Homo sapiens: one gene and its partners. The protein of the gene in region 2 interacts with the protein of the main gene of each other region in a biochemical or structural test. Each region holds a gene or a part of one and is shown on either strand. Other genes may lie near its edges.

Evidence for each region.
Region 1: the proteins of PEX13 (region 2) and PEX14 form a complex in vitro, tested with the Homo sapiens proteins (one study listed by BioGRID).
Region 3: the proteins of PEX13 (region 2) and PEX5 form a complex in vitro, tested with the Homo sapiens proteins (3 studies listed by BioGRID).
Region 4: the proteins of PEX13 (region 2) and PEX19 form a complex in vitro, tested with the Homo sapiens proteins (2 studies listed by BioGRID and IntAct, with this or other methods).

The regions. Positions count from the first base shown.
Region 1 is NC_000001.11:10,596,942-10,603,975, forward strand, and holds part of PEX14 (peroxisomal membrane protein PEX14), read left to right. Parts: intron 1-2,296; coding exon 2,297-2,425; intron 2,426-7,034. UniProt on the Homo sapiens protein: Component of the PEX13-PEX14 docking complex, a translocon channel that specifically mediates the import of peroxisomal cargo proteins bound to PEX5 receptor.
Region 2 is NC_000002.12:61,048,704-61,052,508, forward strand, and holds the end of PEX13 (peroxisome biogenesis factor 13), read left to right. Parts: coding exon 1-67; 3' UTR 68-3,287; downstream 3,288-3,805. UniProt on the Homo sapiens protein: Component of the PEX13-PEX14 docking complex, a translocon channel that specifically mediates the import of peroxisomal cargo proteins bound to PEX5 receptor.
Region 3 is NC_000012.12:7,199,685-7,206,718, forward strand, and holds part of PEX5 (peroxisomal biogenesis factor 5), read left to right. Parts: intron 1-2,066; coding exon 2,067-2,157; intron 2,158-2,556; coding exon 2,557-2,667; intron 2,668-2,927; coding exon 2,928-3,020; intron 3,021-3,747; coding exon 3,748-3,867; intron 3,868-7,034.
Region 4 is NC_000001.11:160,282,100-160,290,084, forward strand, and holds the start of PEX19 (peroxisomal biogenesis factor 19), read right to left. Parts: upstream 3,035-7,985; 5' UTR 3,026-3,034; coding exon 2,956-3,025; intron 2,757-2,955; exon of another isoform or gene 2,266-2,756; intron 1,541-2,265; coding exon 1,431-1,540; intron 1,011-1,430; coding exon 845-1,010; intron 404-844; coding exon 318-403; intron 102-317; coding exon 1-101. UniProt on the Homo sapiens protein: Necessary for early peroxisomal biogenesis. Acts both as a cytosolic chaperone and as an import receptor for peroxisomal membrane proteins (PMPs).

The DNA of each region.
Region 1 (7,034 bases), on a different chromosome or scaffold from region 2:
CTAGTGGGCTCGGCTGCGATAATGCAAGGAACATGTTTTATTAGGAAAATAGGCTTCATAAAAGCTCAGGGCCAGAGGGCAGAACTGCGGGCAGGGCGTCCTGTCCCTTTAACCAGCTCCGGCCCTCAGGGCCACAGCACAGTCTGTAACTTACTGTATATTTCCCCAGTGTTAAACATTATTGTACTTGTTTATATTTGAAAGAGCCAAAAGGGAAAATGAGAATGCAACTGAATGCTCCTTTTGGGAAAATTATCTTCATTTGCAGCCAGCGGCTGACAAGGCACACGAACCACCAGGTTTATAAAATTCCGTAGTGTACCAGTGACCATCAGCCTGTGCTGACATCGCAGATGCTGCTTTCTTCTCTAATGGCTGATTATGAACTGGTTAAAACAATGTCTTTCCCACCAGGGCTCCGAAAGGGGTTCCCCTTCCTGTTTAGTCGGAGCGATCGGCAGTCACTACACAGGCTGGAACCTGAGAGGCACAAACTCAGGGCGGGGGTATTCTCTGTTGTTGCCTGGCTTGCCTGTTGGTCCTGTCCCTGTTCTTCTTGGAAGGTGAAATTATGGGTAAAGCAGTCCCTTTGCAGCAAGCACCCCCTCTCTAGCTCCACTCTACTGACCTTCAGCTTTTGTCTTTGGAAGGTGGTACGTGATGCGCTGTGAACCCTGGAAGCATTTTCATCCAGCCCACCAATCTGTTGAGAGCATGGTGCTATCAGGGCAACCCGGTGGCTCTTCAGACTTCCCAGTGGTGAGGCTGTGCCTGCCCTTGGCCAGCTCCACTGTGTGAAGAGGGTAAAGAGGGGAACAGCTGCAGTTTTAAATGGGGATAGTCCTCAACTCCTCAGCACAGAGAAGGGAAAAAAGAGTCCAGGGCTGTTTAGAAAAGTTCGGGCATTTTCCTTTGACTAGCTGTGGTAGGGCATGAAAAGTTTGAGGGGTGGCTGCAGTCAACTCATATGCCAGTATGGTGCAGGGCGGAGCTGTGCTTTAAAGCATTAATGTGCACCATCTATTAGCCCCTAGGCATGGAGTATGAGGCACCATCCTTTTGAAGATGCTGATCCTCAGAACCTCCTTGTACTTCATCTACCCCCAGGGGCAAATATACCATGCTGTGGGCCTCTAATGGAGAGCTGCCGACCAGATGTGGAAAAGCTCTCGGCTGTAGTTTAAAAGCTCTGTGTTGCGGCTCGCTTGGATGTTGGGATTCCTGGAACAGCAAGGGCTGGCCGAGTGGTCTTTTGCAGACTAACAGTGACCTCCCACCTGCTTTTCCCACTCTCAGCAGCTGGAGTGCCTTTGTACACACAGCTACTTCCTGAGCTGGCCCCGTGTGACCGCTCCTTTCATACTTGAGCGCCACATTTCATTCTGTTCTTTGGGTTGGATGGGGCTCTCTTCCTCCTCCCAAGAGTCAGTGTCCCAAATTGGCTCAGACCCGGTGGAAATATCCCAGCTGTGTCCCCACTGGAAATGCGGCCTTCATGGGTTTTCATTTGCCTTTTATTCTTCTGTGGGCAAATCCTCTCCACATGGCATAGCCACTGCAGATGGCGCCCTGCCACTTCCTGATGTCCCATGTATGGTGTGGTTTAGAGTGTCGGGAGGATTTCAAGAAGGGAAAAGAAAAACTAGCCAAAGGCGATACAGGCAGCGTGTGATAGGCTAGAATAATAATCATCTGAAAGTTTGGGCCTGGCCTTGTTTTGATCTGTTTTCTTGTTTTATTTTCTTCTTTACATTCTATATCCCATTCATACTAATCACAGTCAGTCCTGATTTTTCTTTTTATTTCTGCATTTGTCATAAAATAAAGCAAATTATTCCCGTCTTCAGAAACGATCTAGACTAATTAGTCGTCTCACCCAATAATTAGTTTTTTGTTTCCCTGTCTGTTTTCGTGCATTATTGTTAGTTTTTTCCCCTCTTTTTTTTTTAACACCATTACAGATTAAAATGAGCCACATTTGCAGTTGATGGTATCTGTTTTCGGGGGAAGAATGGAGAATTGCAGTACCGAGCGACTTCAAAAGCAGCAATAAACTCAAGGATAAATTAAGGAAATTGAATGAGCCACATTTGGAAGCAGTGTTGAGGCTAATATTCTGTCGCTTAAGGTTAAATTGCAACTGAGAGAGGTTCCGGAGAATCTGAAATCGGGGAGGCAACTTACTAGGATGCGAGGCATTCTGTGGCTGTAAAGGTCTTTGCTCAGTGAAGATTCTGTTGCAGCTATGGACACTGACAAAAGGTACTCACCTGCAATGATGTCCTCTTCTCCCCAGGGCTGACAGATGAAGAGATTGATATGGCCTTCCAGCAGTCGGGCACTGCTGCCGATGAGCCTTCGTCCTTGGGCCCAGCCACACAGGTGGTTCCTGTCCAGCCCCCTCACCTCATATCTCAGCCATACAGTAAGTCACCCGCTCAAACTCCTGCTTAACCTTGATTGGGATTCAGGACTCTGGCCAAAGGGCAGTGTTCTGTATCTCCCAGACTTAGCAAACCAGGAGAAACTGGGAGCAGCAGAAAGCTCTTGGGTTTTTCCCAAGGAATGTGACACACCCCAGTCTTCTAGACAAACTTTTTAAAGTATGTGACAAAGGTTTAAGAAGAGACAAGGGATCAGAATAAATGATTTTATTGTTGTTTCAGGTATTTTGGTTACATGCAGAAAACCTGTACAACTATTTATTGATTCTGTTCCCATCTCCTCATACCAGTGCTTTTGAATGTTACTGTTTCACTAAAAACAGCGTGACCATCTGACTCATGGGTGCATTCTTGTTTGCTCACTGCAATAACCTGTCTCCCACTTCTATTTTTTTAAGTTAATATTTGTAAGTTTAGGTCAGCCTCCATTTCCCTCCCTCCCTTGTCCTGGCTATACTTTGTACGTTTATGTAGTAGCGGTCTGTTAGGGAATTTCAGGTTAAAACATGAAGTTCCTTTTTGAATGTTTCTTTTAATTATACGAGATCATGACCCATGAGGGGTCTTTCGTTGTCTTAAATGAAAGCTACTATAGGAATAAAGTTTCTTCAAACAAGTTATAAATGCATACCTCCAAAATGCAGCCAGAAGCCCTCCTTGAAATCACTTATAAAAAGTTTAAAAAGGCTAAAATTGACTACAAAGTTATGGAAAATAGCTCCATTTTGTTTCTTTAATGAAACTCAGCATTGGGCCGGGCACGTTGGCTCACGCCTCTAATCCCTGCACTTTGGGAGGCTGAGGCGGGTGGATCACCTGAGGTCAGGAGTTCGAGACCAGCCCGGCCAACATGATGAAACCCTGTCTCTACTAAAAATACAAAAAATTAGCCAGATGTGGTGGCAGGCGCCTGTAATCCCTGCTACTCAGGAGGCTGAGGAAGGAGAATTGCTTGAACCCGGGAGGTGGAGGTTGCAGTGAGCCGAGATCGTGCCACTGCACTCCAGACTGGGCAACAAGAGCGAAACTCTGCCTCAAAAAAACAAACAGGCAGGGTGCAGTGGCTCACATCTGTAATCCCAACACTTTGAGAGGCCAAGGCAGGCGGATCACTTGAGGTCAGGAGTTCGAGACCAGCCTGGCCAACGTGGTGAAACCGTGTCTCTACTAAAAATACAAAAAATTAGCCGGGCGTGGTGGCACACGCCTGTAATCCCAGCTCCTTAGGGGGCTGAGGCAGGAGAATCACTTAAACCCAGGAGGTGGAAGTTGCAGTGAGCCGAGATCACGCCGCTGCACTCCAGCCTAGGTGACAGAGTGAGACTCTGTCTCAAAAAAAATAAAATAAAATAAAGAAACTCAATACTGGATCTGTGATCTCTCAAAATGCCTTTTCTATAATTGTTATTCTCAGAAGTTTTATTTTTGCAAAAAATGATTTAAAACTGTTAGATATCAGATTTTAAGGCCGGGCGCAGTGGCTCCCGCCTGTAATCCCAGCACTTTGGGAGGCCGAGGCGGGTGGATCATGAGGTCAGGAGTTCGAGACCACCCTGGGCAACAAGAGCAAAACTCCATCTCAAAAAAACAGACAGGCCGGGCGCGGTGGCTCACGCCTGTAATCCCAGCACTTTGGGAGGCCAAGGCGGGCGGATCACTTGAGGTCAGGAGTTGGAGACCAGCCTGGCCAATGTGGCAAAACCCTGTCTCTAATAAAAATACAAAAATTAGCTGGGCATGGTGGCGGGTGCTTGTAATCCCAGCTACTCAGGAGGCTGAGGCAGGAGAATCGCTTGAACCGAGGAGGTGGAGGTTGCAATGAGCTGAGATCATGCCATTGCACTCCAGCTTGGGTGACAAGAGCAAGACTCTGTCTCAAAAAAAAAAAAAAAAAAAAAAGTGTTAGATATCAGATTTTAAAAGGCATATTTTAAAATGACAGATTCGTTTTGATCCCCCAGCACCTGGTCTGAAGCTGCCTTCTTTCCCTCACCTCAGCACTGTTTTCATCCAGCTCAGCTGCAGCTAGGCAGGTGTGATCTTGGCAGTAGAGCCAAAAAGGCCTTCTCTTCTCCGGACTTGCTGAAGGGCCAGCCAGTGGGTTGGAATCTGCTGTCTGTGTTACGGATCTTATTTAGAGATCTCCTCCTTTGGCTGTCCACAGAAGGCTGAATGGGGGAGGCCAGGGAGTGTGTGCTCAAGTGTGTCAATCTGTCAGTGCCTTGCATGGGTGACCCACTGCAGGTTGCAGAGCTTCAGTGGTGAGCCTTGTCCTGTATTTGGGCTACTGGGTTAGCACCTGTGACTTGTCAGCTTGGGGCTCCTTTCTCCTTCCTGGCCAGCATTTTTTCCAATCCATTGTAGTTGCTTTGGGTCCTAAGCTGACTTTATGTGCTTCTTTTTAACCAAAGGCTGAGTCTCCACACTTTTTCTTTAGTTGTGTCCCTGGGCCCAGCCGTGTAATGGGATTTGTTGAGGATAGGCAGCGGCAGCTGGGGTGCAGAATTTTCTAAGATGCACATCTGTTCTGTTCCAGCTGTTTCCTCCAGTGGCTTAATACCGAACAGGTCTCTCGGCTACTTGGAAACTTCTTACTCAGAACAAATTGTTCTGGTTGATCACAGAGTTGGCCTAAAACATCATATGTTCACCTACTTTCCATAGACACAAAGGGTTAAACTGTTAGTCTTTCTGAAAGAGGCAAAAGAATGGGGTGGGGAGGGGCAATTCAGTTATTTAAATCATACTCATGTCCAGATCGCTCTGAGAAAAAGCAATACACGTTGAGGTATTTAGGTAGGAATATTTTTAAGAGCCTTCCAGCCCCTAAAAATAAAATACACATTCTTAGACACAGACTTCTTCCTGCTTTGACACTAGTGTAAAAACAATGGTAATGATAATTTTAAATACCTGAAGTTTTTAGTTGTCATCATTGAGCTTCATTCTTCTCATACCGTTACATTGCTCCTCTCACTCCGGGGGTGACTCTACCTCTTCACTTCTGTACTTTTGCCAAGAGGTGTCAAAACTGCTTAAAAAAAAAAAAAGCTTGATTTTGATTAATATAGAGAAACAAGACTTTGCCTGACTGATAATAAAACTGATAAATGACATTTGAATTACTTGTAGCGGTAATTTATTACATAAAATATCTTTTATTTGACATGCGATTAGTTGCTGGAAGCATCACTCAATCTGACTAGTTTAAACATGCTCCAAAATGAACCCCAGTAAAAACCAGGGCTGTCTGCTGCTGGCATTATGAAATATACTAATCCTGGAGTGAGGGAAAAATCTGACTTTAAATATTTAAATGATTAATTGGGTTTATATATTTTTTTACTTTTCTAACCCCCTTAATTACAAGCAAACTCAGGGGAGTTTCTGAACTAGGTGCACAATCTGCATGCTTATCACTGAGGCATTGTCTGCGTCGGGAGGGATTTATGGCCTCTATTCATGTGTGTTCCTGCCGATTTTACATCTAGATCCCCGGCAGCCTTTTCCTTCCCATTTCTTGGCTTTTTACGGACATTCCATCTCTGAGCCCAAGGCTAGAAAATGGGATCCCCTGGGCCTAGCCCCAAACACTCAGGTCTCAGGGTAGGGTAGCTTTTCCAAGACCACCCCAGGGAGCCCAGTGCTCTTCACCTTTGAACCTGCTGGCCCACCTGCTCAGTGGCAGGTGTGCCACTGAGTGCCTCTTTTGGCATCTCTGTTCTTTGGTGAATGTGGTTGACCTTGAGATGTTAGCAAATGCCAGTGTTGGCAGAGAGAACGTAGAGACCTGCCCAAATAGTAACAGTTCAATTTCTCAGTATTTTTATTAACCATCTACTATACGGTCAGTACTATATCATGCGAGAGATCCAAAACCTGATCTTTAAGCATCTTGCTAAGCTCTTTGGGAAAGATAAGATAAACTCTTAAGAAAAGGATAATAATATAAGATGTTGTGATTTAATGCCAAAATTAATTATACAGACAAGAAATTCTGAAATTCTGAAATATAGAAAAGAGAAGAATTAATGTGGGCTAGAGTCAGGGAAGGCTTTTGTGAAAGTGATAGGAGGTTGGCACCAAGGGGAAGCTTGGTGTCACCTGGTGTGAGCATAAACCAGTGCTCTCGGGGGCTAGAAGAAAGTTGGTACAGTTCAGGAGAAGTCAGGCTGTGATTCGAGAGAAGATTTGAAATTCTCCATTTCTCATTTTGGTTTCTTGTCTGGCTTTACATCGGGAGTCAGTGCATGTGTATAGGTGCAGGCCTAGCCCAGTCCTGAGCAGAGGTCTGATAAATGCTGGTTGATTGATTCACGCCAAGCTGATTTGTCTTCGTCCTCCCAGAGAGACCAAGAAGCTTTGAGATATAAGCAGGACCAGTGTAAATTTTGTAGGATAATAATTTCTTCTTAGATTTGAACATTTTCCCTCCACTGTCTTTGATAAACAATTTAAACCCCTTCAAAGACTGACCTAGAGCTTCAGTTGCTTCTTCTCAAAATAGGATGTCAGCATCTGAGGCCGGTGAAAGGTTTTGAACCATTTGATTAGAAATCCTGAGAGAGAGTGAGTTATTCCTCTGTTTAT
Region 2 (3,805 bases):
TGAAACTAATAAGGTTCCAGTTGCACCTGATTCCATTGGGAAAGATGGAGAAAAGCAAGATCTTTGATATCTTTCATGTTTGCCTGCAGTTGAACAATACTTTAGAGTACTTTTTAAAATTATTTCTCACAAAGAAATGAATGTACAATCCAATGAAAACATTTGTTATTGGCTATTTCAGGTGTTTTGCTGCTAGAAATTATTAAAGTTACACACTAGTATGTTGGTCTGGTGACCTGGTTACATTTTATTATACACATTATTGGACCATAAGGACATTTGTTTCACCTAGATTTTAAGATTATGGAGACTGCTGTCATTTTTATCTTATTTAAATCTCTAGGTTTATTGGAAGAGTAAGATTGATGAACTATAGCATGCACAGTTTGGTACAGTAGAGATCATTAATACTTTTAAAAGTTCTGCATTAATTGACTTGGAATCCTTAGAAATGGAGTGGTGACATGTCAGTATGAGAACAGGCAAAAGGTAAATTTTTTTTTTTTTTTACAACCTTAAGTAATCTCAATAATAAAATTTTCTGATCTGTATTATATCCAGTGTTGGGTTTATATTTTCACCCACAAACAACTGACACTGCTATCTTTTACTGTATTTTTAAAAATTTAATTTGAAAAGGTCACCCAGAAGCATTCTGAAGGAAATGGTTCTAGAATTATAGAGTATGTAGCCCTAATAGTTTTCCCTCCTAGCAAAAAGTCTGAAATTTATCTTTCTTACAAACTGTTCCATTTCTTCTAAGGATCCCTTAATTATTTATCTCTTTAAGCCAGGCATGGTGGCTCACGCCTGTAATCCCAGCACTTTGGGAGGCTGAGGCGGGCAGATCACCTGAGGTTGGGAGTTCAAGACCACCCTGACCAACATGGAGAAACCCCATCTTTACGAAAAATACAAAATTAGCTAGGTGTGGTGGCACATGCCTGTAATCCCAGCTACTCGGGAGGCTGAGGCAGGAGAATTGCTTGAACCCCAGGAGGCGGAGGTTACGCTGAGCCGGAGATCTCGCCATTGCACTTCAGCCTGGGCAACAAAAGCGAAACTCCATCTCAAAAAATAAAATTATTTATTTCTTTAAAATATGACTAGTTTTCATACTGGGTGAATCAGAAGTATATGAAAGGTATACTTTCTTTTCCTACAACAAATACTTGAGTTCTTTTGAGTTTGCACTTAATGATATAATCAGTTATAATAGTAATTTTTAATATTTTCATAGATTGTTTGCTTCTACCTTGTGTAATTTTTTAAATTCCATATTTAGGATGCTCTGTAAATATTGAAAATGTGTCACATTGGATACATTTTTCTTTTAGGTTTAGTTTTTACTACTGAGACTTATTTATAGTCTTAGTGCTCTATTGCCATTTAGAATATGATAATCCTCATGCCTTTAATCTCAGCACTTTGGGAGGCCAAGGCGGGCGGATCACCTGCGGTCAGGAGTTTGAGACCAGCCTGGCCAACACGGTGAAACCCTGTCTCTACTAAAAATACGAAAATTAGCTGGGTGCAGTGGCGTGCACCTGTAGTCCCAGCTACTCAGGAGGCTGAGGCAGGAGAATCACTTGAACCCGGGAGGCAGAGGTTGCAGGGAGCTGAGATCATGCCACTGCACTCCAGCCTAGGGGACAGAGCAAGACTCTGTCTCAAAACAAACAAACAAAAAATAATAATACGATAATGCTATTTGACGTGTTTTTTGGTTTATAATGATTTTAAATGCAGTTAACTTTCAGTACACTGAATATTTCCCCAGAAAATTGGAAACTTCATATACTTGGCTACGAACATACTACAGAGTAATACTATCAGGAATACAGGTGTATAAGAATACATTTATAGATATTGTTGAAAACTTTGAACTGTTTGATAAAAATTGTGATTTAGTATTTTTTCTTTTGTCTTTTTTTGAAACGGAGTCTCACTCTGTCGCCCAGGCTGGAGTCCAGTGGCGCGATCTCGGCTCACTGCAAGCTCCGCCTCCCGGGTTCACGCCATTCTCCTGCCTCAGCCTCCCGAGTAGCTGGGACTACAGGCGCCTGCCACCAGGCCCGGCTAATTTTTTTTGTATTTTTAGTAGAGACGGGGTTTCACCGTGTTACCCAGGATGGTCTCCATCTCCTGACCTCGTGATGAGCCCGCTTCGGTCTCCCAAAGTGTTGGGATTACAGGCGTGAGCCACCGCACCCAGCGATTTAGTATTTTTTTCTAATAGACTATGTTCAACAAATAAGTAATTCTCGAATAGTTCAGATTAAAACATACAGGAACCAAGTACATACCCAGCATAGAAGAACTTTACTAAAGGCTTCTTGGAAAGCCCTTTTTTGAAACGACAGTATCGTAAGTAACATATCATTTATAATAGAAATCTTGACCCAGTGCAGAAAAATAAATATAGTAAAATTTATTTATCTTTGGCCAGTTTTCCAACACCCAGGTATTAGCCTTGAAGTTGAAGAGATAAGGTTTCTTGTATATTATTTTTCATTTGTGTTCTACAATTAAAGGTTCTGCTTTGATTTGTCAGATAATTTATAGAAATTTTGTTCTCAAAACAAATGTTTGATAAAACAGATTATTAAATTTGGGGTTGAGATGTCTAAATTGAATGCTAGAAGTAAAGTAGAAGTGACCACTATTAAAGATGTATAGGGAGAAGAGTACAGCACAAAGTGATAAAATAGTGACACTTTTGTAGGGGTGTTTATTGTTTGGTTAAGTCTGCTAAATTACGGTATGCATTATCTGGTGACTATTTGTGCCTGAAAATTCGTTTTGTATTAAAATTCTGGAGAAGGAATTCAGGACTAGAATAAAGAGAAATTTTGTAACCTTTTTTATCATGACAGTTTTAGAATAATTTTTTTAGCTGAGATTAAATGTTCAAGGCTCCAATATTATTTTTAGGAACTTATTTAAGGAGTGCTACTTTACAGAAATTACTAACACACCAAAACATTATTAATTAAATAAAATATAAGTTTACAATAATAAAACATGTTTCTTTTAATTTTTCTGATTATATTTTATGAGTTCAGAAAGGAAATGGTAAAAGAACTATACATTTTCATGTTTTAACATTTTATGTACGTACTTGATTCTGTCTGTGTCATAATTACACATTTACTTGAACACAGCTATCCTTTATCTTGTGCTTTCTTTAATAGAAAAATGAACAGAAACTGAATGCAGTTAAATTTTTATTTTTAGTAGGTTGTGAAGTTACTTTTACTGGAGAAATAAAAATATGTTAAACTTGATTGACTTTTTAAGATAAATTGTTAACACTTTTGCAGGATTAGAATTAATATGAAGTATCTCTTTAACATTATTGTATATATTACCTACTGCAAACCTATCTGTTCTGTTTCTTTGTGATTTAAAGAAAAATAGGCCAGGCATTGTGGCTCACACCTATAATCCCAGCACTTTGGGAGGCCAAGGCGGGCGGATCACAAGGTCAGGAGTTCGAGACCAGCCTGACCAATATGATGAAACCCCGTCTCTACTAAAAATACAAAAATTAGCCAGGTGTGGCGGTGGGTGCCTGTAGTCCCAGCTACTTGGGAGGCTGAGGCAGGAGAATTGCTTGAACCTGGGAGGCAGAGATTGCAGTGAGCCGAGATCGCGCCACTGCACTCCAGTCTGTGCGACAGAGCGAGACTCCATCTAAAAAGAAAAAAACAAAAAAAAAAGAAAAATAATACATTTATATAGAATTACCTACAGGTGTGTTAAATAAAAACACTTCATACCTAGATTTTGGGGGATCTAGATT
Region 3 (7,034 bases), on a different chromosome or scaffold from region 2:
TTGTCATCATGGCCCGTTCTCAATGAGCTATTGGGTACACCTCCCAGACGGGGTGGTGGCCAGGCAGAGGGGCTCCTCACTTCCCAGTAGGGGCGGCCGGGCAGAGGCGCCCCTCACCTTCTGGACGGGGCGGCTGGCCGGGCGGGGGGCTGACCCCCACCTCCCTCCCGGACGGGGCGGCTGGCCGGGCAGGGGGCTGACCCCCACCTCCCTCCCGGACGGGGCGGCTGGCCGGGCGGGGGGCTGACCCCCACCTCCCTCCTGGACGGGGCGGCTGGCCGGGCGGGGGGCTGACCCCCCGCCTCCCTCCCGGACGGGGCGGCTGGCCAGGCGGGGGGCTGACCCGCACCTCCCTCCCGGACGGGGCGGCTGGCCGGGCGGGGGGCTGACCCCCACCTCCCTCCCGGACGGGGTGGCTGCCGGGCGGAGACGCTCCTCACTTCCCAGACGGGGCGGCTGCCGGGCAGAGGGTCTCCTCACTTCTCAGACGGGGCGGCCGGGCAGAGACGCTCCTCACCTCCCAGACGGGGTCGCGGCCAGGCAGAGGCGCTCCTCACATCCCAGACGGGGCGGCGGGGCAGAGGCGCTCCTCACATCTCAGACGATGGGTGGTCGGGCAGAGACGCTCCTCACTTCCTCGATGGGATGGCGGCTGGGAAGAGGCGCTCCTCACTTCCTAGATGGGATGGCGGCCGGGCAGAGACGCTCCTCACTTTCCAGACTGGGCAGCCAGGCAGAGGGGCTCCTCACATCCCAGACGATGGGCGGCCAGGCAGAGACGCTCCTCACTTCCCAGATGGGGTGGCGGCCAGGCAGAGGCTGCAATCTCGGCACTTTGGGAGGCCAAGGCAGGCGGCTGGGAGGTGGAGGTTGTAGCGAGCCGAGATCACGCCACTGCACTCCAGCCTGGGCACCATTGAGCACTGAGTGAACGAGACTCCGTCTGCAATCCCGGCACCTCGGGAGGCCGAGGCTGGCGGATCACTCGCGGTTAGGAGCTGGAGACCAGCCCGGCCAACACAGCGAAACCCCGTCTCCACCAAAAAAATACGAAAACCAGTCAGGCATGGCGGCGCGTGCCTGCAATTGCAGGCACTCGGCAGGCTGAAGCAGGAGAATCAGGCAGGGAGGTTGCAGGGAGCCGAGATGGCAGCAGTACAGTCCAGCTTCGGCTCGGCATCAGAGGGAGACCGTGGAAAGAGAGGGGGAGAGAGACCGTAGGGAGAGGGAGAGGGAGAGGGAGAGGGCTTACTTTATTCTTTAAGATTTCCCCTTGGGTTATTACTCCTGTGAATTTATGGTTGAAATGTAGTCAAGGACACAGTGGTTGTGTGCCTGTACTCAGGAAGCTGAGGTGGGAGGATTGCTTGGGCCCAGGAGGTCAAGTCTAGCCCGAGGAACACAGTAAGACCTTGTCTTTAAAAAACCAAAAGCGCATGCATGTGTGCGTGCACACACACACACGCACACACATATATACACACATACACATATGTACACACGCATACATACACATACATGTGCACATACATGTATATACACACGTATACATATGTAAACATGTAGATACATGCGTACACATGTATACACACACATAGACATACATGTATACACACATACACATACACATGTATATACATACACACATACACGTATATATACATATCAGCTATATTTGGGAGGAAGGGAGTTTTCAGACTTTTAAAATATATGTATATAGGTAAATATATATATATTTTTCAAGAATCCTAACTATCCTATATGACGTTCATAACTTCATCTTAAAGTTCATAATTTTACCTTGTTCCCTTCTTAATTTTGAGCCTGCTACTATCCCATCTGTATGCAAAGATATGTTTGGGAAAGGGAGAGCTAGAAGGATGTAGCTAGTACTTTCACACTCCTGCCCAAATGTCCTTCTATAATGCAAATTGGAGTTTGTAGGTTCTCAACAGGAGAATGGAGTTCCCTCACAGGAACTGTCATTGTCATGGGCTAGGAGTGGGGAGTAGCATGGGGAGGGTGATGGCAGACTAATGTGTAAAATTAGTTCTTACCCGTTCCAGGTATGATGAATATCATCCTGAGGAGGATCTGCAGCACACGGCCAGTGACTTTGTGGCCAAAGTGGATGACCCCAAATTGGCTAATTCTGAGGTGAGCCACATCCCTCTGCTGCTTTGCCCAGCAGAGCTGGTTTTGGAAGGCAAGAATCTTGCTTTTCTTACCCCAGTTTAGTTTAAAGAGAAGGAGAAGAGATCTTAGGTCTCTTCGTTCCTGTCTATAGAACAGAGACTTAAGATCCTGCCTCTTCCTTCTAGTGTTCATTCCCTCATCTCCTTGCCTACTAACTCTTTTTTCTGATGCCTTTGCAAGTCTTTAGAGCCAGAAATCCCTTTCTTTTTGCTCTCTACCTCTTTTAGGGTCTTTAGCATATCTTGTCTGCAGCTAGAGATGGTCAGGGGAGGGGTGAGTACAGGGTCCTCTTGGGCATGGTTGAGAGTGCACACCTGGAAGTCCTTTCCCAAGTGGCCTGTGTGTGTCTCTGTGCCCCAGTTCCTGAAATTCGTGCGGCAGATTGGCGAAGGGCAGGTGTCCCTGGAGTCCGGTGCAGGGTCGGGCCGAGCTCAGGCAGAACAGTGGGCAGCAGAGTTTATACAGCAGCAGGTAGGACATTGTCACTTTCCAGTCCCACTTCAGAGCCAGCTGATGCCCCAGGCCATGGGTTCAGTGGTCAGTGGTCCCAGATGGGGAAGGATAAGACCAGCTTGTCTTGATAGCATCCAGGTCCCAAGTGGGTGGGAAAGAGATTCTGAGAATGATTTTCTCAGAAGTACCCAGGTTGGTGGTGGTTAGTGGGTATTTAGTGTGCGTCTGATGGATAGAAAGTTGGTGGTAGTGGTACTGACCATCCTTTTTTGTCGCAGGGTACATCAGATGCCTGGGTTGACCAGTTCACAAGACCAGTAAACACATCTGCCCTTGATATGGAGTTTGAACGAGCCAAGTCAGCTATAGAGGTGAGAGCAGATAGTGCAGGAGCAGACACCCCAAAAGAAAACACTCCTTGGAGTGAGTGGGTGTATGAACATCAAAGATGATGCAAATTGTATTTCATAGTGGACCTGGATCATCTGTGTCAGAGTTGCTTGGGGATGGGGTGGGTGCTGTTGAAAAATGCAGATTTCTGGGCCAGGCATGGTGGCTCATGCCTGTAATCTCAGCACTTTGGGAGCCCGAGGTGGGTGGATCACCTGAGGTTAGGAGTTCGAGACCAGTCTGAACAACATGGAGAAACCCCATGTCTCTACTAAAAATACAAAATTAGCGTGGTGTGTTGGCGCATGCCTGTAATCCCAGCTACTTGGGAGGCTGAGGCAGGAGAAATGTTTGAAACTGGGAGGTGGAGGTTGCAACGAGATGAGATCACGCCATTGCACTCTAGCCTGGGCAACGAGAGTGAAACTCTGTCTCAAACAAAAAACTAAACTAAACTATGCACTGCACTGCACTGCACTGCACTGCACTGCACTGCACTACATTACATTTCTGGCCATCACCCCAGACTACTAAATCAGTATCTGGGGATAGCATCTGGCCATTTGCATTTTAAAAAACTTATTCAGATGATTCTTAAACATATTGAAATTCAAGAACTGCTGCCTTAGAGAATCCCAGCAGAGCTGAGTGTGGGGTGGGGTGGTCATGATGGATCTCCTTTTTCTATCTGCTTTCCCTTCCTTACAGTCTGATGTCGATTTCTGGGACAAGTTGCAGGCAGAGTTGGAGGAGATGGCAAAACGGGATGCTGAGGCCCACCCCTGGCTTTCTGACTATGATGACCTTACGTCAGCTACCTATGATAAGGTGAGGTAAAAACTCTTAGTTTTTCAGGTTCCAGAACTTCCTTCTTTTTAACGTCTTTCCTTTAATCCTGAATTTGAAGGGTGCTTTTAAGTATTTTCTTGAGTCCCTTTCCACGAAAAGAAGTCTGAATAATTCCCTTGCCCTTCCTCTTCAGTGATTGAGTATAAACTTTATTCTTGGGATATAGATGTTAATGAGACTATCTTTGTCAATAACGACAGTCCAGTACATAACACCTGTGAAGGAGGTTTGCACATGCTTGCTGCATTAAAAGCACAGAGGAAGTAGCTCTGCTTGGAGGTCAGATTGGGAGCTTTTTGAGAAGACTGCTGACTCCTTTGGTGGGGAGTGTTAGTGGACAGACTATCCCTTTGCCTCCACATCTTAATATCTGTTTACTTTTTAAACTCACATATTCATTTTAAGTTCTTATCTTTTATAGGTAGTAGCCACTTGCCCTAATTTAGGGTTTTCAAAGAATTTATATTAGATAACTTAAATATTAGGGAAATTTCTTAGTAGTATGAAAGATGATTGCATTTTGCCTATAGCATGTGCTGTTGACTTAGAAGCATATGTTACTTCTGGGGTCTTACTGAAAAACAAATCTACCTGTGGGTTGTAGGATATTTGGGGATGTGTTTAATAACTGAGCTCCTGAGTTGAAACATGAAGAGGGGAAAGAATCACTTGGTTTTGAAAAAAGGCAAAACAGGAACTGGGGATGTGAGTAGTGATGTCTTTTTCTCAGTTCAGATCTGGTTGGGAAAGTATTGTGGGGCTGGAACCAGGGCCTGAGATGCAAACCAGGGTGCTGGAGATGGATCTTGATGTAATAAGGGAGCTATGCAAAGATGGGAAGATGCAGTTCAGAAAAAGGCTAGAGTTTGAGAGCCAGTGAAGAACAGTATTAGGAAAAATATGATTTTGCTTATTATTCCAGTCTGATCTGGATTTTTCTAACTATCCTGTGTGATATAAGGGAAAAGACAGCTGGGACCTTGCCATGTATTTCACTAGACTATGAGTTCATTGTATATAATTTTGATAAGGAAGAACTGAAGGAAATATAGATAACACTTTTGTTATTATTTTGTATTAACAATTTGATAAGTCACATAGGCCCCATCAACTTATAAATGGAAAGTTGTACATTTATGTAAAAATGTCCATGCTTTTCATACATATAGACATAATACTAGTTTTGTATGAGCAGCATTTTCTTTTATCATTTATTACTCTCGTATTTATGACATGCTGGCCAGAATACATTTTTTTTTTTCAGACACATAGAACAATGTGACAAATTAGAAAGCAAATTTTTTTTTAGAAAAAAAATCACATTTGATCAGGTTCCAAGAATAGAAATGTGGAAAGGATAGTCTTTTCGATAAATGGTATTGGAGAAACTGCATATCCATGTGCAAAAGAGTGAAACTGAACCGTTACCTCACACTATGTACAAAACTTAATCCAAAATGGCTTAAAGACCCAAATGCAGTACCCAAAACCGTAAAATGCCTAGAAGAAAACATAGGGAGAAAGTTTCTTGACATTAGTCTTTGCAATGATTTTTGGGATATGAGCTTTTGGTGTCATATCCAGAATACATTTTTTAATTAAAAACTTTAAAAGTATGTTTGTAGATTCTTGAGCCCTACTTGATATCATTGATACTTTGGGATATTGCAAAATTAGGACTAGAAATACTTGCATTAATGTTCCTCAAAAAGTGATGTAGTAAGCAATTAGACAGTATCTGGCTTTAAGCTAATATTGAATTCCATGTCAATAGAACTTTTTAAAAACAAAGGACTTGACTCTTGATTGTTACATAAATTCATGGATCTCTTTGAATGCACTGTTTGTTTATTGATAGCCCTTATATTTTCAGAGACAATTTACATTGCAGCTCAGGCAGATATTAATATACTATTATGATAAAAGAGAAGTATGTGATGGGACAAACTCTTTGTAGTGATCATTTCTGCAGTTTGATCCTATGAGATTTTGGAGCAGACCAGACCGTGTATCAGATAAAATTAATGACTTGGGTTTGGCTTTTCAGGATGTAACAGTGAAGCCAAGCTTATCCTGTGTTCTGTGGGTTGTTGAGGGATCCCCCAGAGTACTCTTTTTCCATCATCTATGCAAATATTCTAATTTTGGAAAATTCCTCTTTGATCAGCAATTGATGAGACTTCAAGGAGGGTAGATAATATGGATGAGAGGAAACTTAGAGAATCCTGTGGTTGCAAGATGGTGGCATTGAGTTGTTGTATTATCTAATGAAGACACCTGAAGAGCATTCGCATCACTTCTGGCTGTCATATACAGGCCATCATATCTTAAGGAAGTATCTAGAGCAGTGAGGATAATAGCTATTTACAGATAGTATCTTAAGCTTTTTGGTAAGGCGTTGGTGAAGATTCCCATTTGATGTTCTCAATGGCTCTGAGAGGCAGGAATTACTTTTATTAGGAAACTGCATTATAGATGACAGTAATCTCTGTTTTCTGTAGAGTGGCTTAAAACACGTATTAATGATGAACAATAGTTGAGGTTGAATGCAGAAGGATTTATTTTATTGAACTGTAATAGTCTAGGGCAAGGGCCAGCACACTGGCTTGTGGGATAAATCTTTATGTTTTTAGTGATCCACTAGCTGAGGATGGTTTTAACATTTTTAAATGGTTGGAGAAAATCAAAAGAGTAATACTTTGTGACAAGTGAAAATTATATAAAATTCAAATTTTAGTGTCCATAAATAAAATGTTATTGGAAGACAGCCGTGCTCATTTGTTTACTTATGTCTGGCTGCTTTCGCACTACAACAGTAGAGGTGAGTAGTTGCAGCAGATCCACGAAGCCTGAAATATTTATTATCTGGCCCTTCGCAGAAAAAGTTTGCTGATCACTGGACTAGCGTCATTTTCTGCCTTCTTAGTTTTTATATTATGCAGAGATGTCCAAAAACACACTTGTTTTCAATATAAATATACTTTCTATACATTTATCTCAAATCTACTATAATATGTCTTTCTTCTTAAACCCCCCATTGTAATTATTTAATTTTCATTTGTGACAAATAATTTGCATCTGATCATGACTTAGAATTTTGCTGGTAAGATTTAAGTGTTTTTGATTCTTTATCATTTTCACAATAA
Region 4 (7,985 bases), on a different chromosome or scaffold from region 2:
ATACTCTGCATGATGGGGAGGATGTTCCCTTCCCCATCCCCTTCGTCCATGCCTAGCCCCTCCATGGCCTTGGTCAGCTCTTCTTCCGACATGCTGGAGTTCTAGATAGGACAAGTAAGAGGTGAGCAGGTATACTACCTTCTTGGGATGCTCACCACTCTCTCAGGTGACAAAGATAAACTATCTAAACTTGCCTGTAACAAACAATAAGACAGCAACAGACTTGGGATGATACTCAAAGCATCTGTCTTTTGAGACTCTGCTGGAGAAATGTCTGGGAGTGGACCCCTTGTGGGCCCCTACTACTTTCTCCTCACCTGAAGGTCAGTGGCATTTTTGGCTAATCCACTTAGTGTTTCCTTTAGGCAAGAAGTGAATTCTTGTTGGGAGGTCATATCACTGCCTAGGAGAGATTAAAAAAGCCAGCGTCATTTAGGAGTTTGTTTCCTTGCCTAGACTGAACTGGTTAACAGCTTGGATATGAAGCATTTACTAGTGAATCATTATCACTCCCAATCTTGGAAAACCCTATGGTTATCTTCATAGTCTTTTCATAAATCTATTTAGTACACGGACTCTGCATCAGTTTATTCTCCATGATGATACCCACAATAACACTGTGACCTTTCAAATGGTCAGTTTTGAATAATGTTTTCTATTACTTTCCAACCTATCTCACCCCTTTTCATTAACAGGGATTCCCATCCTTTCTCTCATTGCCTTTACCCGTTCCTTGGCTGTGACATCATGATTGCTATCAACTTCACTAAGAATTCTGGTGTTTTCAGGCAACAAAGACTTAAGAGTCTGTTCAGATATTTCCATGTATCTGGGGTCTCCTCACCCACTCTCCCTGCAGCCTCTGAGAGCTTTTGGAACTGCTCCACCAGGTGGGGTTCTTCCTCAGCCAACTCCTTCATTGCCTTCTCGAACTCCGCAGTGGCTTGGGAAGCCAGTTCACTGTCGAATAGTTCCTGGAAAAACTTCTCTTGGGAAGCGAAGAGGGCATCCTGCGGGGGAAGGATGGCTGAAATGCGTCTCTTACTTAGGACTACACTGCACCTGGCCTCTGATAGAAGCCACAGGCAGTGGCTATGGGAAATGCACCTCCCTCCTACCCAATTCCACTGGACATTCTAACTACTGCTCCTAATGAGGATAGCAAAAAAGGTATCTAGTCATTGAAGGAGGGTATGGGATGGCATACCAATCCAACCATTTAAACCTACTATTTTTTCAAGGAACTCTGAGATTCCCCCACTCAACCTCAAGTCCTTATTTCACAAGGACTGAGGCTGGCAAGAGCACTCACCAATGTGAGGCCAAGGTACCCTCCCACATTCCCCTCTGGCCCATAGGGGCCTGCCCAACCTCTGCTCAGGGCTGCATGCCCATCCCCTCCCCATCCCTTAAGGGGGTGGAATTTATACTTTGGCAGTGTCTCCTGGCGATCTCTTCTGGGGCCCCGAAGCATCAGGGGCCGTGGTGGTAGAAGGGGGTGCTGGGGAGGGTTTGGCTTTATCGAAATCATCAAGAGCACCTTCAGAGACAAGAGACATGGTGTGTGTGTTGGCGACAGATGAGAATGCAAGCAAGGCTGGGTGGTTTCTGGGCAAAGCATTAGGAATATGATTTTTCAAATTGCCAACTTTCCTCAATTTTCCTCCTTGAGTCCCCCACCTCCCCAGACCACCCTCAATGAGCCTCCTACTTCCTTCTGGATTACCTAATTTATTGTGAGCAAAGGCAAAGAAATCCCTTAAGGTGGAACAAATGTCCATCTCAGAGCTGGGAGGAGAGGATTAAAAAGTTCTGCAGAGACATCTCCATCTATAGTGTCTCCCTTGCCACACCCTAACGATTCCCTAGAAATCCCATACAAATACCCAACAGTAGTAGAGAACACAGATGTCCTCATCCCTCTGAACTCACTCTGGAGCTCTAAAAGGAATAACTTGGTGAGAAAGCACAGGACATCCCACCCAGCTTCCTGTTGGTACTGGTACCAGCACAGACTGAGGGACTACATACCAGACTCCATGGTACGGCATTAAACTATCTTCTCTTATTCTCCAGTTTAGTGCTCCCCAACAACCTTCTAGAGCTCCCTTTGGCCTGATCTCTGCAGATAACCGTACACTAATTTACACAGTCACTTGGCACTCCTCAGGGTTTCTGTTCATTTTTCTGCCTGCCCACATCTCCGTGATTGAGCAAGCGATTACAAATTCACCTCTGCCCTGAAAAGCCTGTGTCCTCACCACCATTCTGTTCGCCAGGCCTAGGGAGAGAGCACTGGCCCTACTCTGGGCAGGAAGTCAACAGGGGAGTGGAGAGTAATGCTAAGAAAACATCCCCCGTCTTTCAGGAGGGTGAACTGCTTTCCCCTGAAATCGCCACATCCTCAGTTTCTCAAAATAAGGGAAAGGAGTCCGCTTGAGCTACTGACAAGATGAAAGAACTGTTAAGGGGCCTAACGAGAGAAAGAGAAAAGGACTAGGAGGAGAAAAGTGTCTTTCGTGTTAAGGAAGACAGGACGAGGCACACAAGGACCGGCCACGAGCTTGCTAGGAGTTAATGTAAGCAATCAGTGAGTGCGTAGTTCGCTACCCAGCAAGAACCAAATGCTGCTGCTGCTGCTACTGCTGCTGAAGTCGAACTTTAAGAACTCAGTAACCTAAAGAGGAGTTTGAAGAGGTATCATGAAACGCCGTCCTGCGGAAACATCCACCATCCGGACCACTGAGGGACCCCAGGTGAGCTCCCCAGCTCCAGTCGCCGGGGTGGGGCAGGATGACCCAGAGATTTTTGGGGGGCTCGGGGGTCAGACTCTCCGCCCCCATTTAACCTTTGGAGAGCCTCTCCTGCCCGTCCCTAATATCTCAGGTTCACTTAACCCCCAGAATGGGTCCTCACACGTGCCCTCTTCGGGCCTTTCCCACTATGGGCTCTTACTTTCCAGAAGCTCCTCCAATTCCCTGTCCGCTTCGGCCCCGACACTACAGCCTTCCTCAGCGGCGGCCATCTTGCTACCTCCGACTTGCCGTAGGAGGCGGGACCTCCTCGGTGCCGACACGCCCTCCACCCCTTCGCTCCCGCCCTCTTCTGCCTCGGGTAACCAATGGTATTGTTGACCAGTGCGGAACCGCCATTTTTAAAGGGCCAGGAAGCTTTGAGTGTTTGTGTTTTGGGTATTTTTCCCTTTTCTCCTGTGAAACAGAATTAGGGATAAGATAGGGTTATTTTCTGTCTGGTTTTAGAGGCCCGGACTCCTTTCTTTCAACTTCCCAAATTACCTGGCGAAGCTCTTTCATTATTTTTTCCTGAGCTGTGAGTAGGCCAGATTGAGACAAACTGCCTACAAATAACCAGAATCTAAACATATATAATTGATATGACAATTATGGCACATAACATACTACTTTCTCTCACTTCATTTTTTTTTTTTTATTTTTTTTTGAGAAGGAATCTTGCTCTGTCGCCTACGCTGGAATGCAGTGGCGCCATCTCGGCTCACTGCAGCCTTGGCCTCCCGGGTTCAAGCGATTCTTCCTGCCTCAGCCTCCCGTGTAGCTGGGATGACAGGCGCGCGACACCACGTCCGACTAATTTTTGTAGAGACGGGGTTTTAACATGTTGGCCAGGCTGGTTGGCCAGGCTGGTCTCGAACTCCGGACCTCAGCTGATCCGCCCACCTCGGCCTCCCGAAGTGCTGGGATTACAGGCGTGAGCCACTGCGCCCGGCTTCACTTCATTGTTTCCCTCAAATATTATCTTTTCTGAAACGCTTTCCTTGGCCATTCCCGTTCCTTTTCTTCCTAACACTGAACAGTATCTGACATACTATCTACCGTACTTTTTTATTCTCCGCTCCCCACCCTGCAGAATTTAAACACCATGAACGCAAAGATTTTCGTCTGTTGTCTTCACTGCTGTAAAGCCCAACTCCCAGGCTAGGGTTTAAAACTTAGTAGGCATTCATTGGCCACTCTTTGCTCTCGCAGTCCCTAATCAGGCACATCTGTCTGCCCAATCTAGTGGCATCTCTCATTTCCTATTATCTATTAGAACTGTTTGATTAAAGGACACAGGGCCGGCCAGGAACTTAGAACTCCATGTTATTAAGAGAGCCTCTGGTACCTTGGACTGAGCAGGGCAATTCGAATGCAGTAGTAATAGACTTACTTTCCCTGAACAATCTCCTTTTCTCCACACAGAACCCAACCTCCAACTGAGTGAACACGGGGAATGCTCAGATAGAGGTAACTCTAGACGTCCCTTTCCTCCTTTGGAATTGTTCTATTCAGATGTCAGAATGTAGCAACTGTTTCACATACAAATCTGTTTTCGCACTTAGAGAGCACCTATTATTAAGGTCTTGTTCTGGGCACAGTGAGGACAGAGAGATAAATCAGGACCACCCCCTGCTGTAAGGTAGCTAAGTGGGGGTGAGCCGGAGGTATGATGAGATATACACACAGTATGATACAAGGTAAGAATTTTAAATGAAAAAAAATCCTGTGTTAAGTCACCTCATCACTTTCATTCTTAGCTTCCTAAACACACATTTGAGTACTGCATCAAGCACCAGATCAAGCACTTACTATGTCCTTCACAGATAGGGCACAGACTTGTAAAATCATATCTGCAAAACCTGTTTTCTTCCAACCACAAGTAGTGTGTTTTGGGATCAAAATATTATGAACTGTGAGTTAGAAAGCCTAAATTCCAGCCCCAATTCTGCCACTAATCACTTTTGAAGTCCTTTACAATTCTAAACTTCTGTAATCAAATCCTTTCCTGATAAACCTGTTTTCCAACACCTGCAACATAATTTATTCCAGACTTTCTCATTCAAACTGCTTACACGTGTATCTCCAATATGGCTATAGTTGTAACAAGCACGTCAAAAAAAGAAAACTTGTCTATCAACAGGCATCTCTATTGGTTTTATTTTTTGAGACAGAGTTTCACTGTTGCCCAGGCTGGAGTGCAGTGGTGCAATTTTGGCTCACTGCAGCCTCCACCTCCCGGGTTCAAGTGATTCTCCTGTCTCAGCCACCTGAGTAGCTGGGTCTGCAGGCTCGCGCCACCATGCCCAACTAATTTTTGTATTTTTAGTAGAGACAGTGTTTCACCATATTGGCCAGGCTGGTCTTTAACTCCTGACCTCAAGTGATATGCCCACCTTGGCCTCCCAAAGTACTGGGATTATAGATGTGAGCCACTACACTTGGTCAATTGGCTTTAAACTAATGTAATATAAGCATGTTAATTAAAAGATAATAGATGATAATTAAAATGGAGTCAAAAACAAGCATGATTCTTTCTTTGCATTATTTCTTAAACTTCTTTCTGCTTTTCTATTTTTACTCCTAATATTCCTAACATCTCATCTCAGTATTTACTGACCTACTGACTGCTCCTTCTGCCCTTCTAATGTATAGCGAATACTGTTGAATAACAGTATTTTATAACGCTTTCATATCACTCTGTTCCTTAAGGATTTAATGGTTCTCCACAGTTTATCGAACAAATTCTAATTCTTGCCTGGGAGTCACAATTATTTCACATCTTGTATTTTTAGTAGAGACAGGGTTTCACCATGTTAGCCAGGATGGTCTCGATCTCCTGACCTCGTGTTCCGCCTGCCTTGGCCTCCCAAAGTGCTGGGATTACAGGCGTGAGCCACCACGCCCGGCCTTTTTTTTTTTTTAAGACAAAGTCTTGCTCTTGTCCCCTAGGCTGGAGTGCAATGGTGTGATCTCAGTTCACTGCAACCTCCGCCTCCCGGGTTCAAGCAATTCTCCTGCCTCAGCCTCCTGAGTAGCTGGGATTACAGGTGCCTGCCACCCTACCCAGCTAATTTTTGTATTTTTCGTAGAAACAGGGTTTCACCGTGTTGGCCAGGCTGTTCTCGAACTCCTGACCTCAGGTGATCTGCCTGCCTTGGCCTCCCAAAGTGGTGGGATTACAGGCGTGAGCCACCACTCCCGGCTAATATGTACATTTTTTTTTTTTTTGAGACGAAGTCTCGCTCTTGTACCCCAGGGTGGAGTGCAATGGCACAATCTCATTAGTAGTATGTACTCTGTTGAGAAGGCAGCCTTAGTTTAGGGATGCTGTTTAAAAAAGCAACTCTTAAGATAAAGCTAAAAAATACAACGTATAGTATGAAGAGAAGTAAAAAACAAAGTGAAGCTCCCTAATATATTGATACGAGAAAATACCAAAAATGTTAAATGAAAAAACAAAGGTACAAAATTGTTAAATAGTGTGGTTTCATTTGTGTATAAAAGGAGATAGAGAATGGCATAGTGATATCAGCATGTGCATGTATATGTGTGTGTGTGTATATATATATATATATAAAATTTCTGGAAGGATGTAAGAAAGCTGGTAACAGTGGTTACCTGTTTAGGGGAAGGTGATAGGAACTGGGTGGCTGATGAAAGGGTGGAAAGATTTGTCACAGAATAGCTTTTTATATTTACTGATTTTTCAACTATATGCATTTATTATTTATTGAAAACATGAATTTAACACGCAAAAAAGTACTTATTTTAATCGAAGGCACAGTAATGTCACTCTACCCAATTATTCTTAGCATATGACAAGCAAAATATTGTATTGTTAATGTAATCATTGTATCATTGTAATATATATAAAGTACTATTCTTTTATCTGTATATTACATGTAAAATATCTAGAACAGTGACAGTCACATGGCAGGTGCTCAATAAATATTGCTATAATTAGCAAAAGATAAAAGGCTGCAATCAAAAACAGAATAAGGGAGCTACTTGCTTTCTATCATTTTCACAGCAGTTTAGGTCCTCATATATACCCTATGAAAAACATGTGCTTCTTTTTTTCTTTCTTTTTTTTTGAGATGGAGTCTCACTCTGTCGCCCAGGCTGGAGTGCGGTGGCGCGATCTCAGCTTACTGCAACCTCCGCCTCCCGGGTTCAAGCAATCCTCTGCCTCAGCCTCCAGAGTAGCTGGGATTACAGGCACCCACCACCATGCCCGGCTAGCTTTTTTTTTTTTTTTCCAATAGTGGATGTTTATTTTGTAATTAAAAATTATTACTGGAAGGAAGATATGTACTTTGGTGGGGTGCCTGCATGGGTGAACAAGAACATGAGAGTGTCCAAGAAATAAATGGCCAAGTCAAGAAGCTCTCATAGAGATTTATTTAGTGTGAGAAATATGAGAACAATAGTTGTAAAGAACAAATCAATAACCCGCAGTGTGCATTTTGGAAAACCAAATAACTTCTTCAAATTTCTGAGTACACAGAGGGTACCTGCCTTGAAATTTAAATGTCTAAGGAAAATGGGAGATGATTAAGAGTTGGTGTGGCCTAGTCACACCAAAATGTATTTATTACATCCTGCTCCTTTCTAGTTGACAGGAAAGAAAGCTGCTGTGGGGAAAGGAGGGATAAATACTGAAGGGATTTACTAAACAAATGTCCATCACAGAGTTTTCCTTTTTTTTTTTTTTGAGACAGAGTCTTGCTCTGTCACCCAGGCTGGAATGAAGTGGTATGATCTCAGTTGAATGCAACCTCCACCTCCTAGGTTCAAGCGATTCTCATGCCTCAGCCTCCTGAGCAGCTGGGACTATAGGCGCATGCTACCATGCCAGGCTAATTTTTATATTTTTATTAGAGACGGGGTGTTGCCATGTTGGCCAGGCAGGTCTCGAACTCCTGGCCTCAGATGATCTGCCCACCGTAGCCTCCCAAAGTGCTGGGATTACAGGTATGAGCCACTCCACCCAGCCCAGAGTTTTCATTTGTTCCTTAAAATAATTAAGCTGGAAAGGCAAGGACAATTATGAGCACAACTGTAGTCAAGTTGAGAAGACCTCAAAAAAGTCAAGTTTAGACCTTCGGATTTTCCATAGAAGAGAAAAAGATACTAGGTTTTAGGGTACAGAGAGCCAGATCTGAAGAGTAGCTGCAGGGGGAAGGTGCT